Linked DNA regions of Homo sapiens. The protein of the gene in region 1 purifies or fractionates together with the protein of each later gene. This does not show direct contact. Each region holds a gene or a part of one and is shown on either strand. Other genes may lie near its edges.

Region 1 (3,500 bases):
GGGGGAGACATCCTAGTTTTGGATACTCAGTTTGATGTGCATGAGGAAAATCCAGTGGATACATATGGATATTCTAGCCCTGACTCAAGAGAGGGTTCATGGATATAGATAAAAGCCCATGGAGTCATTAGCACACAGGTGGTATATAACTGTGGAGAGAGTTGACCAAGGAGAGTAGGTAGAGGAGTTCACAACCTTTTTGCCTTCCCAGCATACTGGAGTACTATAAAATTCTTTCCCGTAATAATGATTGCCTGGGGCAGCAATTCTCAGACCCTGGAAAGTATAGTTTGGCAAAAGCCCCCATTGGTATTTCTGCATTTGACAATTACTGGTGTAGAGGGAAGAGCACTGGGCCAAGGAAAAAACACTGCAGAATACCAATTTTTATTTATTTATTTATGCCCAGGCTGGAGTGCAATGGCGTGATCTCTGCTCACTGCAATCTCTGCCTCCCGTGTTCAAGCAATTCTCCTGCCTCAGCCTCCTGAGTAGCTGGGATTACAGGTGCCCGCCACTACGCCTGGCTTATTTTTGTTTTTAGTAGAGACAGGGTTGCACCATGTTGGTCAGGCTGGTCTCGAACTCCTAACCTCGTGATCCACCCGCCTTGGCCTCCCAAAGTATTGGGATTACAGGCGTGAGCCACCGTGCCCTGACCGGAATACCAATTTTTAAGGTCTTGGCAGATGAGGAACCTAGGAAAGACACCAAAGACGAGGAAACTTAGAGAGTAGTGTCATGGGAGCCAAAGAAGTTAATGAGTTTCAAGAAGGAATGAGTGGTTACTTAATGTCACATGCAATAGCGATCTAATATGATAAGGACTGCAAAGAGTCTGTTGGATTTAATATTTTTTAGAAGGTTTGGTGAATTGGTGTTTGCAAAAGCCAATTGCTGTGCATTGAGGAATATGTTTGATTATTCATTCAAGTAATAAAAAAGAAAAAATCAAGCTGACTCTTGAAGAGGCCCCCCCACACACACACAAAAGAAAGAAATGTTTGTCTTATGTGCTAAGCACTGTTCTAGGTTGTTGAGGATGTACTGGTAAACCAAAATGTCCCTGTGTTTATGACACTTAGATTCTAATAGAAGGAGATAAACACAGGAAGTAATGATAAATAGACAAATGTAAAGCACTGTTTCAAGAAGATTGGCTAAAAGATTTACTGTAAGATTTACTATACAATAATATAGTAATAGCTAATGTTTATTGAATGCTTATTCTATCGCAGGCACTGTACATAGAGTATATCCTTTAACTCTCACAGCGACCTTGTGGAGTAGATATTATCTTTCCCATTTTATAAAGGAGGAAACTTAGGTTCAGAGTAGCTAAGTAATAACTTACACAAGATTACACAGCTAATAAGAGGCAGGTCTGAGACTTAATCCACAATCTGTCTGATTCCAAAGTTTGTACTTACAGCCACTATGCTGTTCTGAATCTGCAGAAACATGTTTTTATGTTGGTAGTAACCTTTAAGTACTTACATTTGCTCACTCATTTACTCACTTGCTACTAAAAAATTTTAATAGCAGTCATTCTTTAAAATGACTTTGTTCTATTTTGCCATTTATGTAATAGCATCAGACTTTATTATTTTGTCTATGCTTATCTATAGAAGTTCTTTGTTTTCACACAACTGCCTTATGCCAAAAGATGCCTCCCAGTTCTCACGTTGTGAAGAAATTGGTCACTGTTTTTGGAAATTTATAAAGATTCAAGCCGGGTGCTGTGGCTTGCATCCTGTAGTCTTAGCTACTCGGGAGGATCGCTTGAGCCAGAGTTTGAGGCTGCAGTGAGCTATGTAGTCTTGCCACTGCACTCCAGTCTAGGCGACAGAGCAAGACCATGTTTCTTAATTAAAAAAAAAAAGATCCAGATGGCTCACAAGAGTGTTAGAGACCCTTACTGTTTTTGTGTTCACCTCTTCAACAAATACTTACGGGAAAATTTCTTGCACCAGACACTGTGTTAGGTGGTGGTGACACAATGGTGAACAAACAAAGCTAGTTTCTAATCTCTTGGAGATTTCATTCTAGTTGAGGGAGACAATAAACACACAATGCACAGTATAATTTTAGATAGAAATAGATGCTATGCAGAAAATAACAGCATATTGCAATAGTGACTCAGTAGTGGGGAACTACTTCAGCAAGGATGGTCAAGAAAAGCCTCTGAGGAGGTGACATTTGAGCTGAGATCTGAATGATGATGAGCTGGCCATGAGAGCTGGGAGAAAACCATTTCATAAAGAGGGAATAGGTTACTGAAGGCCTGAGTTGGAAATAAGCTGGACATGTTCAAGGGTTAGAAAGAAAGCTAGTGTGGCTGAGTGTGTGGTGAATGAAGGGAGAAACTAGTAGGAAATGAAACTGGAGAGAAAGGCAGCAGCTAAATCATGTGGGATCCTATAGGTCTTTGCAGAGACTTTGTAATTAGAATGAAATCCACCAGGAAGCCATTTGAGAGCTTTAAGCAGGAAATGTTATGCTCTCATTTATAATTTTAAAAGATTGTTCTAGCTTCTAGGTAGAGATTTTAGACCAATTAAAAGTCCATTGTGGTAGTCCAGGTAAGAGATTATGAGATTGGATGGTCTTTCAGAGGTCTCTTGTCATTTAACAGTCTAGGTTCTAGGTTATTCACATCTGGGCTTTATTTGGGGTGATTTTCACAATTTTCCAACATCAGTTTTGGTCTCAGACCTTTACTATTTGCTGAAGATCCATTGGGGGAAACATATTACCACTATATCTTCATAAATATTGTGCTTATTATTTTACTGTTTGTTCCCAAAAGTAGTTAGTAAGGATAATTATCTCTAGTATACTTAATGTACAGGATGGGAAAAAGAATATTTACAACTCTGGCTTCTCATATTATTGTCTTATCCAAATATATCCTTTTTTTAGAATTGTGGTGGGTTTCACTTCACTATTGGAAAGGCAAAATAACATTTTTCAATGTCTAACACAATGCCTAACACACTGTAGTTATGTAATAGATATTTGTCCATTATATACGAACCATTTCTGCTGGCTAAATTCAGCACGTGCCACCAGTTTACAACGTTTATGCATAATTTATCATTTAATTCTCATAACCATGTATATAAGACCCCTGTTGTATAAAGTAGGAAACCAAAACTCAAAACACTTCACATTTTTCTTCATGTAATCCTCAAAGCATTCACATGAGGTAGGCTATGGCATTATATAGAATTTATAATGATGAAACAGACTCAGAGAAGAATAATGACTTGCCCAACTTTCTATTTTCTTACCCTGCTTTAGTTCTCTTTGTGGCACTTATTTTTGGATATAATATATATCAATTTGTGTATTTGTCAGCCCCACTAGAATATGCACTCCATGAGGGTAGAAACTGCTGTATAGGTTACCTATTGCTGTGTAACAAATTACTCCAAAACTCATTGCCTTAAACCATTTGTTATTTTGCAGTTTCTGTGGGCCAGGGATTGCAAAGCAGC
Region 2 (3,500 bases), on another chromosome or scaffold:
TCCTGGCCTCGAGATCTGCCGGCCTCGGCCTTCCAAAGTGCTGGGATTACAGGCGTGAGCCACTGTGCCTGGCCCTTTTTAAGAGGGTCTCACTCTGTTGCCCACGCTGGAGTATAGTGGTGTGATCATAGCTCATTGCAACCTCCAACTCCTGGGCTCAAGTGATCCTCCCACCTCAGCCTCCCAAGTAGCTAGGACCATGGGTGTGCACCACCATGCCTGGCTAATTTAATTTTTTTTTTTTTTTTTAAAGAGACAGGGTCTTGCTTGCAACATTGCCCAGGCTGATCTTAAATTCCTGGCCTCAAGTGATGCCCTACCTTGGCCTTCTAGAGCACTGGGATTACAAGTGTGAGCCACCATGCCCAGCTATACCAGTGGGCTTTTAAATGGACATTTCTTTACCTCTGGGGATAGTCTCATTTTTGTGAGGCTCCCAAGGGGAAAGCAGCCATCTGACCAAACTAGAAAACTAGCAGGCTTCAGCCCAGTGGAATAACATAAAGTAGGACAATCGATACAGACAACATTGATTGGCCATGCTTTGAGTGCTGTGGATAGTGTGTATTGGAAGCTTAAGGGGCCAGCTCATAAGTAAGTTGTAAGTAAGTATTTAAGGATGCTTTTTTTTTTTTTTTTTTTTTTTTGAGACAGAGTCTCACTGTCACCCAGGTGTGAGTGTGATCTTGGCTCACTGCAACCTCTGCCTCCCAGGTTCAAGTGATTCTTGTGCCTCAGCCTCCTAAGCAGCTGGGATTACAGGTGCTTGCCACCATGGCCGGCTAATTTTTGTATTTGCAGTAGAGATGGGGTTTTACCATGTTGGCCAGGCTGGTCTTGAACTCCTGACATCAGGTAATCTGCTCACCCCGGTCTCCCAAAGTGCTGGGATTACAGGTGTGAGCCACTGTCTCTGGCCTAAGGTTGCTTCTTGTTTTTCCCCACACCCCATCTCATACTCATGGGGAGTTGGGTTTGACTGTATTCTTGAAGTTAAGTCTCCATCCTTGGACCCAGCTGCTAAAGTCTAAAATGATTGTGTTTTGGGCTGGAAGATATTATAGAGATCTTTATTTCCTTGCAAACATCAGGGCTGGCTGTTTGTGGTACTGTGGATGAGTGAAGAGTCAGGAGATACACTTCTAGTTCTGTTACTGCCCAATGCCTCCATTTTGCATTTGATAGGTTTTTATTTTTCTGACGACAAAAACTGAGCCCCAGAGAAGTGAAGTGGGCCACGTAATGGTAGGATCTTTTTTAGGCCACCCACATAATAGTGGGACTCTAGTGTTAGAGCTGGGACACAGGCTAGGGGTCTTACAAAGGGTGGCCATAGAAGTTGTTAGAATTGTTTAAAGCATTGTAAAGATGCAGGATGCTTTTGCAGTTAAAAGTCTCCTGGGAAGGAGGAGGCCCTGTCTCCACTTACTGCCTTGTACATGATCTTATACCCTCATGGTTGAAGATTTTTGCTGTCGTGCTGTTTTTCCTCCTACTCATGTCGAAATGTGTTTCTCTTGCTCTTACCTCAGAGGAAATGAATTTGAAGCCTTCCTCCGTGTTAGAAACAAATAGTGCTCAGGCCAGACTTGTGTGTTTCTGTAAAGAATGAGGCCAGATGTAACAGTGGACCTTATCTGGTGATCCAAGCAAACCTTCAAGACATCTCTAAGAGAAAGAGAGAAGGAATGAGTGTATTTCAGAGTGGTTTAAACACACTTTGGAGTCAGACTCACTTGTATTTACGTTCTGATATCTACTTACTAGTTGTCAGATTGTAAGTTACTTATTTTCTCTAAGCCTTAGTTTTATGATCTGTTGAATGGGAATAGTAATATGTATTTTTATAGCTATCTTAAGAATTCAGAGAATAGATATGGTGCTTCCTCTGGCACAATGTAAAACAGCAGTCCCCAACCTTTTTGGCACTAGGGACTAGTTTCATGGAAGACTATTTTTCCATGGACTGGGGGATGTGGGGGATGGTTTGGGGATGATTCAAGCACATTATATTTATTGTGTACTTTATTTCTGTTATTATTATTTTTGAGACAGAGTCTCACTCCATCACCCAGGCTGGAGTTCAGTGGCACAGTCTTGGCTCACTGCAACCTCTGCTTCCCAGGTTCAAGCAATTCTCCTGCCTCAGCTTCCTGAGTAGCTGAGATTACAGATGTGTACCACCACACCCGCTAATTTTTGTATTTTTAGTAGAGATGAGGTTTCACCATGTTGACCAGGCTGGTCTTGAACTCCTGACCTCAGGTGATCCACCCGCCTGGACCTCCCAAAATGCTGGGATTATGGGCATCATGCCCAACCTATTTCTATTATTATTACATTATAGTATGTAATGAAATATACAACTCACCATAATGTAGACTTAGTGGGAGCCCTGAGCTTGTTTTCCTGCAACTAGACGGTCCCATCTGGGGGTGATGGGAGACAGTGACAGATCATCAGGCATTAGATTCTCATAAGGAGTGTTCAACCTAGATCCCTTGCATGCACAGTTCACAATAGAGTTTGTGCTCCTATGAGAATCTAATGCTGCCACTGATCTGACAGGAGGCGGTGCTCAGGCGTTAATGCAAGCGTTGGGGAGCAGCTGTAAATACAGATGAAGCTTTGCTCACTCACTTGCTGCTCACCTCCTTGGATGGGTTTCTGATAGGCTACAGACCAGTATCGGGGGTTTGGGACCCCTGATGTAAATGCTCTGTGTTGTCATCATTATTGACAACAATAGTTTCCAGTTTCTGAGCCACGTCGTAGTTTCAGGATAGGTTATGCTGACCAAGCAAGTTTTATCTTAACCATCACCTCATTGTTGTCTTAGTTGGTTTGTATTACATATTATTTATACCAATAGTTATAGGTATTTCATGCTGAATAACTAAAAGTTGTGAGTAGCAAGGAACTTTGCTGCTTCTCTGCCATCTCCTTCCTTACTCAGCTTAGTGCTTATCTTTCTCAGGTTCTCTCTTGTCAGGTGCTCAAGCCAGCAGGCCTTGTTTCGGGGGCAGTGTCTGATGAGGGGATTTTATTGGGGTAGGGCTGGCTAGTCCAGAGCCTGCCTGGTCCCTCAGATAGTATGTTCTCCTTATCTCTTGCTTTCTGCTCTTCAGCCAGACATGAAGCAATTAGCTCATCAAGGGAATGTTGACTTTTGTCACTGCTTTCCTCTGATTTGTATGCTCATTTCTGGTCCTTGTGCAAAGTCACGGAGGCACAGTCACATACACTGACCCAGATTTTGTGCTCAAGTTGACTGTCTCTCTCTTTGAGATGTACAACTGGTTCCATGTAGCAAGGGAGTGAGGAAAAAGCCCCTGGAGCCAATCCCATTATTTTGATCTCAAGTTGAGTTTTTAAAAAAATCCAAGCACTATGACTATAGACCATGCCTCACTTCTCTGTATGAAACAAATAAGGTAAAAAAAACTCACTATTTGGAGGGAAGGCCAATCTGAATTGGTAAACAATAGGAATTAGTACAT
Region 3 (3,500 bases), on another chromosome or scaffold:
CCTGGCCCTCCCGCCTTGTATTGCAGCTACTCCCGCAACCACACCTACAATACCTATATCGGGCAGGGTTACATCATCCCCGGGATGGACCAGGGGCTGCAGGGTGCCTGCATGGGGGAACGCCGGAGAATTACCATCCCCCCGCACCTCGCCTATGGGGAGAATGGAACTGGTAGGGGCGTTCCCCAGCCACCACCTCAGCTCCTCCTCCGAACTGCCCATTGTGTCTAGGCCACCCCCTCCCACAGTGGGATTCCAGGCACCGCTCGGCCCCTCTCATCACAAAAACATGCATGCAGCTTACATCTGGTCACCCCATCTGATTCCTGCCACACAGACTCCATCGGTTTCCTCCAGGGCAGCGCCCCACTTCGCCCCTTCCGCAGTGGAGAAGGGCAGCCAAGTTTGGGGAGGGAGGGTGGTTATGGAAAAACAGAACCAGCATACCCCCAGGACCCAGCTGTGCTGGGAGCCTCAGTGTCCTCACCTGTCAAGTGGGCAAGCCATGCTGATCCGCAGGGTAAGTTACTGGGAGTTTGCAAGACGGTGAGTGGAAAAGGGCTTTCTTACTGGAAAGCTGCCTTCCCCTGCCCCCTGCCCCAGTGAAAGTTTGTTAGAATTGACTCTGGACAAACATCCCGTCCCATCCTCCTTTGGATCCTCAGGGTCGGGAAGGGGTATCAGGTCTGGGGACCTCCATGGAGAGACCTCAAGTAGCCTCTCCTAGTGCTCTGAGCTGACCACACTCCCCCATTCTGGCCTCAGGAGACAAGATCCCTGGCTCTGCCGTGCTAATCTTCAACGTCCATGTCATTGACTTCCACAACCCTGCGGATGTGGTGGAAATCAGGACACTGTCCCGGCCATCTGAGACCTGCAATGAGACCACCAAGCTTGGGGACTTTGTTCGATACCATTACAACTGTTCTTTGCTGGACGGCACCCAGCTGTTCACCTCGTGGGTCCGGGGGGGGGCCGGGACTGGGCAGGTGGGTGGGCACAGGCATGGGGAGTCCTCCTCAGTGCACCCCCGACGCCTGCTCCTCCCTCTTGGTCCTCGAGCGCCAGGGGAGCATTCAACCTCTTGCTGCTTTCTGTAAGTCCCCATCTCGGAGCATGTCGAGGAGATGAAATTCTCTGCTTCGCAGGGGAAGGGAAGGTGAAGCCAACAGTTGGGGGAGAACTGCTCTTTCTATTTCACAGAGGGGAAACTGACGCAGGGAGCCATGAGCCCTCGAGGCCACACTTTAGGGGGCAGAGGCAAGATGAGAAGGGAACCCCACGTCTGCACAGCTGGGCCCCTGCACTCTGCTGCGTGGCCCAAGTCACCAGTGGGAGTAACTCCGGAACTGAGGGCTTGTTCTGGGCCCACCTCAGAGGGAGAGGGGTGTGCGCTGGCAGGGGACAGGGTGGCTGCTGACCTGGGCATCTGCTCTCCCCCAGGCATGACTACGGGGCCCCCCAGGAGGCGACTCTCGGGGCCAACAAGGTGATCGAAGGCCTGGACACGGGCCTGCAGGGCATGTGTGTGGGAGAGAGGCGGCAGCTCATCGTGCCCCCGCACCTGGCCCACGGGGAGAGTGGAGGTGAGGGGCTGAGACCATAATCTTTTTTTTTTTTTTTTTTTTTTTTTTTTTGAGATGGAGTCTGACTCTGTCACCCAGGCTGGAGTGCAGTGGTGTGCTCTCAGCTCACTGCAACCTCCACTTCCCAGGTTCAAGTGATTCTCCTGCCTCAGCCTCCCGAGTAGCTGGGATTACAGGCACCTGCCACCGTGCCCAGCTAATTTTTGTATTTTTAGTAGAGACAGGGTTTTGCCATGTTGGTCAGGCTGGTCTTGAACTCCTGACCTCAGGTGATCCACCCGCCTTGGCCTCCCAAAGTGCTGGGATTATAATCATGAGCCACTGCGCTCGGCCCGAGACCGTAATCTGACTGGCATCTGTCCCTTTTGCTCCTGCCCACTGTGGGTCTGATGACTGGTGGGAGGAGTCAGGAATGCCTTCAGGATGGCTCCTTAAACATCCCATGCCCCACTCTCCAGCCCAGCCCCAGGAGGGGAAACTGGCCTGTGGGCTGGGAAACAGTGAAGCCAGGCCCAGACCCCGGCCTGACTAGGACCCCTCCCTTCTCTCCTGCCCTCCCTCCAGCCCGGGGAGTCCCAGGCAGTGCTGTGCTGCTGTTTGAGGTGGAGCTGGTGTCCCGGGAGGATGGGCTGCCCACAGGCTACCTGTTTGTGTGGCACAAGGACCCTCCTGCCAACCTGTTTGAAGACATGGACCTCAACAAGGATGGCGAGGTCCCTCCGGAGGAGGTGGGTGAAGGTTCAGTCCTAATAGCCATGCCCACGCAATCCCCGCACCCAGGAAGCATCGAGGAAGAAGACGTCCCCCGTCCGGACTGCCCACCCGCCCTGGTGCTCCTGCCTGCGCTGAGTCCCACGCCTCAGGCTCCTTGTCCCTGCTTTTTCCTGGGCACACATGCAGGCTGTTCCCTACCTGAGACCAGTCACAGACTATCCCCATGCCACGCCTCCACCCCAGCCCCCACCAGGACCCCAGCACCAGTGCCTTTCCCAGCCCTTCCTGAGTTACAGGGTGCGGGGGAGCCTGGGAAAAAAGAAGAAAAAGAAAGCACTCACTGGCCTCCACCCGGGGCCCCTGCCCCTCCCAAGGCCATGACCCTCACTGCCCGCTCCCCCGGCTCTCCCCTGCCCCAGTTCTCCACCTTCATCAAGGCTCAAGTGAGTGAGGGCAAAGGACGCCTCATGCCTGGGCAGGACCCTGAGAAAACCATAGGAGACATGTTCCAGAACCAGGACCGCAACCAGGACGGCAAGATCACAGTCGACGAGCTCAAGCTGAAGTCAGATGAGGACGAGGAGCGGGTCCACGAGGAGCTCTGAGGGGCAGGGAGCCTGGCCAGGCCTGAGACACAGAGGCCCACTGCGAGGGGGACAGTGGCGGTGGGACTGACCTGCTGACAGTCACCCTCCCTCTGCTGGGATGAGGTCCAGGAGCCAACTAAAACAATGGCAGAGGAGACATCTCTGGTGTTCCCACCACCCTAGATGAAAATCCACAGCACAGACCTCTACCGTGTTTCTCTTCCATCCCTAAACCACTTCCTTAAAATGTTTGGATTTGCAAAGCCAATTTGGGGCCTGTGGAGCCTGGGGTTGGATAGGGCCATGGCTGGTCCCCCACCATACCTCCCCTCCACATCACTGACACAGCTGAGCTTGTTATCCATCTCCCCAAACTTTCTCTTTCTTTGTACTTCTTGTCATCCCCACTCCCAGCCCCTTTTCCTCTATGTGACAGCTCCCTAGGACCCCTCTGCCTTCCTCCCCAATCCTGACTGGCTCCTAGGGAAGGGGAAGGCTCCTGGAGGGCAGCCCTACCTCTCCCATGCCCTTTGCCCTCCTCCCTCGCCTCCAGTGGAGGCTGAGCTGACCCTGGGCTGCTGGAGGCCAGACTGGGCTGTAGTTAGCTTTTCAT
Region 4 (3,500 bases), on another chromosome or scaffold:
CCAGCTAATAGAAGGCAGGGAAGGTAGGGGTGAGGGGTACAGAATCTGTCGTGTGTGAGCTGGGAAGGCAGCCCATCCTGGCTGCCTGGCTGCTAGCCTCTCCATACTCCAGCGTCGTAACTAAACAGTACTTAGTGTCTTGCTTCTCTGTATAATGGGGATGTGCAAACCTATTTTAAGGTACCAGAAGCTTAATTGAAATAGTACACATAAAGCATATGAGACAAATACTTGGCAAATATGTGTCGTTGGCAAATCTCGAGGCTGGAGGGCTCATCTTCGTCTTCGTCTTCGTCTGAAGATGAAGATGTGGCCTTGGACACGTTGTCTCTGCTAGGCTCCCCAGCTCCAAAGTTCTAGGGAGAGACTTTTTTTTCCCCTGAGTAAACACCTGCTTTTCTGCCTTTGAATAATAATTTGTTTTAGTTTTCCTCACTTATGAAAATGCACATGTTTTTAGTGCAGTCAGTCTGCTGCTGTTTTTATAAATTTAGTTTATTGGAACACAGCCCTGCCTGTTTGTCAACATATTGTCTCTGGCTCCTTTTGCACTGGAACAACAGAATTGAGTAGTTGCAATAGACAGTATGGCCCAAAACGCTGAAAAGTTTTTTTCCTAGTATACTTCATGATTTGGCATATGTCCAGATAAAGACTCGGGGAAGGGGCAGTGGTTCAGATGACGGAAATACCTGACATAGATAAGGAGCAGAGGCTGTTTCATGTTGAGGCCTTGCCCTTCTGTGTTATCAAGTGACATACTTGGTAGGCTCAGCCAGCGATACAGTGCAAGATTATCTGAATAGATGCTGAGAGTTGCTGTAATATATTTTGTGGGTATTTTTGTTTTGTTTTGTTCGAGATGGAGTCTCACTCTGTTGCCCAGGCTGGAGTGCAGTGGTGCTATCTCGGCTCACTGCAACCTCCGCCTCCTGGGTTCAAGCAATTCTCCTGCCTCAGCCTCCTGAGTAGCTGGGATTACAGACATGCACCACTACACCCGGCTAATTGTTGTATTTTTAGTAGAGATGGGGTTTCACCATGTTGGTCAGGCTGCTCTCGAACTCTTGACCTCATGATCCGCCTGCCTCGGCCTCCCAAAGTGCTGGGATTACAGGCGTGAGCCACCGCACCCGGCCTATATTTTGTTTCTTGTGTCAGGTCTGGTGTGTTCTCAAAAGTTTCTCTTCCTGGGCAGAAAAAAAGGCCGGCTGCCACACCTTAGATCTCTAATCCCAGCACTTTGGGAGGCTGAGGTGGGAGGATCACTTGAGTACAGGAGTTTGAGAAAACTCTAAAAAAAAAAAAAAAAAAAAAGAAAGATTTTTTTTTTTTTTCTTGACACAGAGTCTCGTTCTGTCACCCAGGCTGGAGTGCAGTGGCGCGATGTCAGCTCACTGCAGCCTCCGTCTCCTGGGTTCAGGTGATTCTCCTGCCTCAGCCTCCTGAGTAGCTGGGATTATAGATGTCCACCACCACGCCCAGCTAATTTTTGTGTTTTTAGTAGAGACAGGGTTTCACCATGTTGGGCAGGATGGTCTTGAACTCCTGACCTCAGGTGTTCCACGTGCCTCTGCCTCCCAAAGTGCTGAGATCCCAGGCGTGAGCCACCACAGCTGGCCAGAAAATGAACTTTCTAAAGAGATTCTATTAGATCTAGTTTTGCCTTTAAACTGAAGAAAGCAGATGGCATATGTTATTCCAGTACTTCTGTGTTAGTTAATAGCCCCTGACTGTCTTGAGCAAATAAGTTTTTGGTGAACTTCCAAAGACTATTATCATCTTGCCTCTTTGAGTTTTAATGCAGATTTGTTACTTATATTAGGATTAAGTTCAGCTTAACTGTTTCAAGCAAGATAGAAAAAAAGAAGCCTGGAATGGTTTCCAGTTACTTGGCTTTAAAGACACCTCATACCTACTTTTTCCATCTTTTCTATCTGGTATCTCACAGAAATTGTTCCTTTTTTATTTGGGAAATTCCCCTGCTTTCTCAGCTAGATATTAAGCTTCTTATTCATCCATGTTCATGTTCGGTAAACATTTGTGAGTTATTCTCATTAGGAGATGGTGTTTGAGCAGGGAGTTTTCGTTCACACTACGTAAAACTTAAGAAGAGAAATCGGGCTGGACACGGTGGCTCACACTTGTGATCCCAGCACTTTGAGAGGCTGAGGTGGGCGGATCACTTGAGGTCAGGAGTTTGTGACCAGCCTGGCCGACATGGTGAAATCCTGTCTCTACTAAAAATACAAAAATTAGCCAGAAATCACTCGAACCCGGGAGGCGGAGGTTGCAGTGACCTGAGATGGTGCCACTGTACTCCAGCCTGGGCAACAGGGTGAGACTCCATCTCAAAAAATAATAATAATAAATAAAAAAGGAAAAGGAATTGGTTTTCCAAGTGTTAAGTTTAGTGCAAAATGCATTGTGGGGAGAAAGTGTGTTCTGTCAGAGATACACGTGTCAGAACTGTGTCACACCTGGTGAAGCCGACAGTGAGGTAAAGACACAGTCTTGGGCCGGGCCAGATGAGGCACTTGCTGAAGGCCGGGCTGAGGACCGCCTACCTTCCGTCTCCTGTAGGTGGCAGAACTGGTGAAGCCATTGTAGATGCTGCGCTGAGTGCTCTGCGCCAGCTCGTGAAGGATCGCCTCGGGGGACGGAGCGGAGGATACAGTTCTGGAAAACAAGTAAGACCATAAAATGTCAGTTTTTAATGTGTCATAATTTTGAAGCCAGAGTGGATACCTTGTATAAGATAGTTGTTTTTTAACAGTATGTTAAAGTGGTGAACTCTCAATTAAAGAATAATAGAGGATTGGATCCACCGATCCCAGAGGGAACCAGCCCTCCAGCCTGCTCATTTGGCCTCCTCAGAATTGCTGTTGCCAAAGCCAGTCAGTCCCAGGGCCTCTTGCCACACCTGCAGTCCAAGTACCAGGCCCAGGAGCCACGTGCTGGCATCCCATGGCACTTGTAGGTCCAGAGTGGGGATGGGATGGACGGGTTTTCCTCTAGGTAGGCTTTGGCAAACCGTGATGAGATTGGATTACCTCTTGGCCTGTATCTGTGGCAGTCAGCCCCAAATCCATGGAAAATTCTACACAAATGGATAGGGAAGAAGAGAGAGAGAGAGGAGCAGATTGGTGTTTTAGATGCCCTTATGTGAAATGTGAAGCTTACACTGATGTTCTTGTGAAAAGACAAACTTGAAGATCTATCAATATTAAATGGGCTTTTACTTTTAGGAGACCAGTTACACTAGCTTCTTTATACAGGCTCAGAGCTTACCCAGAGATTTCATGCTCTTGCCTTTTATTTTAAACTTAGACATTTAATGAGCATAGTTGCCTGGCCCCCTGCACCCTGCCTGGCAACAGAAAGCAATGCTGACTGCTTCTTAGATTTAGTACTGAAGAACATTCTTCGAAAAAAGAAAAGGATTAAGTGTTATTTTTAGCTCTGTTGACTGGTAGGGACTTTGTCTATGAAAGATGTAA

What was found.
Region 2: the proteins of SLC25A14 (region 1) and SIL1 purify together in Homo sapiens (affinity purification with mass spectrometry; one large-scale study listed by BioGRID and IntAct). This does not show direct contact.
Region 3: the proteins of SLC25A14 (region 1) and FKBP10 purify together in Homo sapiens (affinity purification with mass spectrometry; one large-scale study listed by BioGRID and IntAct). This does not show direct contact.
Region 4: the proteins of SLC25A14 (region 1) and PDIA6 purify together in Homo sapiens (affinity purification with mass spectrometry; one large-scale study listed by BioGRID and IntAct). This does not show direct contact.

The regions. Positions count from the first base shown.
Region 1 is NC_000023.11:130,367,419-130,370,918, forward strand, and holds part of SLC25A14 (brain mitochondrial carrier protein 1 isoform 1 precursor), read left to right. Parts: intron 1-3,500. UniProt on the Homo sapiens protein: Transports inorganic anions (sulfate, sulfite, thiosulfate and phosphate) and, to a lesser extent, a variety of dicarboxylates (e.g. malonate, malate and citramalate) and, even more so, aspartate and glutamate and tricarboxylates.
Region 2 is NC_000005.10:139,188,369-139,191,868, reverse strand, and holds part of SIL1 (nucleotide exchange factor SIL1 precursor), read left to right. Parts: intron 1-3,500.
Region 3 is NC_000017.11:41,819,504-41,823,003, forward strand, and holds part of FKBP10 (peptidyl-prolyl cis-trans isomerase FKBP10 precursor), read left to right. Parts: intron 1-26; coding exon 27-172; intron 173-765; coding exon 766-958; intron 959-1,203; coding exon of another isoform or gene 1,204-1,260; intron 1,261-1,443; coding exon 1,444-1,586; intron 1,587-2,150; coding exon 2,151-2,314; intron 2,315-2,719; coding exon 2,720-2,905; 3' UTR 2,906-3,500. UniProt on the Homo sapiens protein: PPIases accelerate the folding of proteins during protein synthesis.
Region 4 is NC_000002.12:10,792,286-10,795,785, reverse strand, and holds part of PDIA6 (protein disulfide-isomerase A6 isoform d precursor), read left to right. Parts: intron 1-2,583; coding exon 2,584-2,690; intron 2,691-3,500. UniProt on the Homo sapiens protein: May function as a chaperone that inhibits aggregation of misfolded proteins. Negatively regulates the unfolded protein response (UPR) through binding to UPR sensors such as ERN1, which in turn inactivates ERN1 signaling.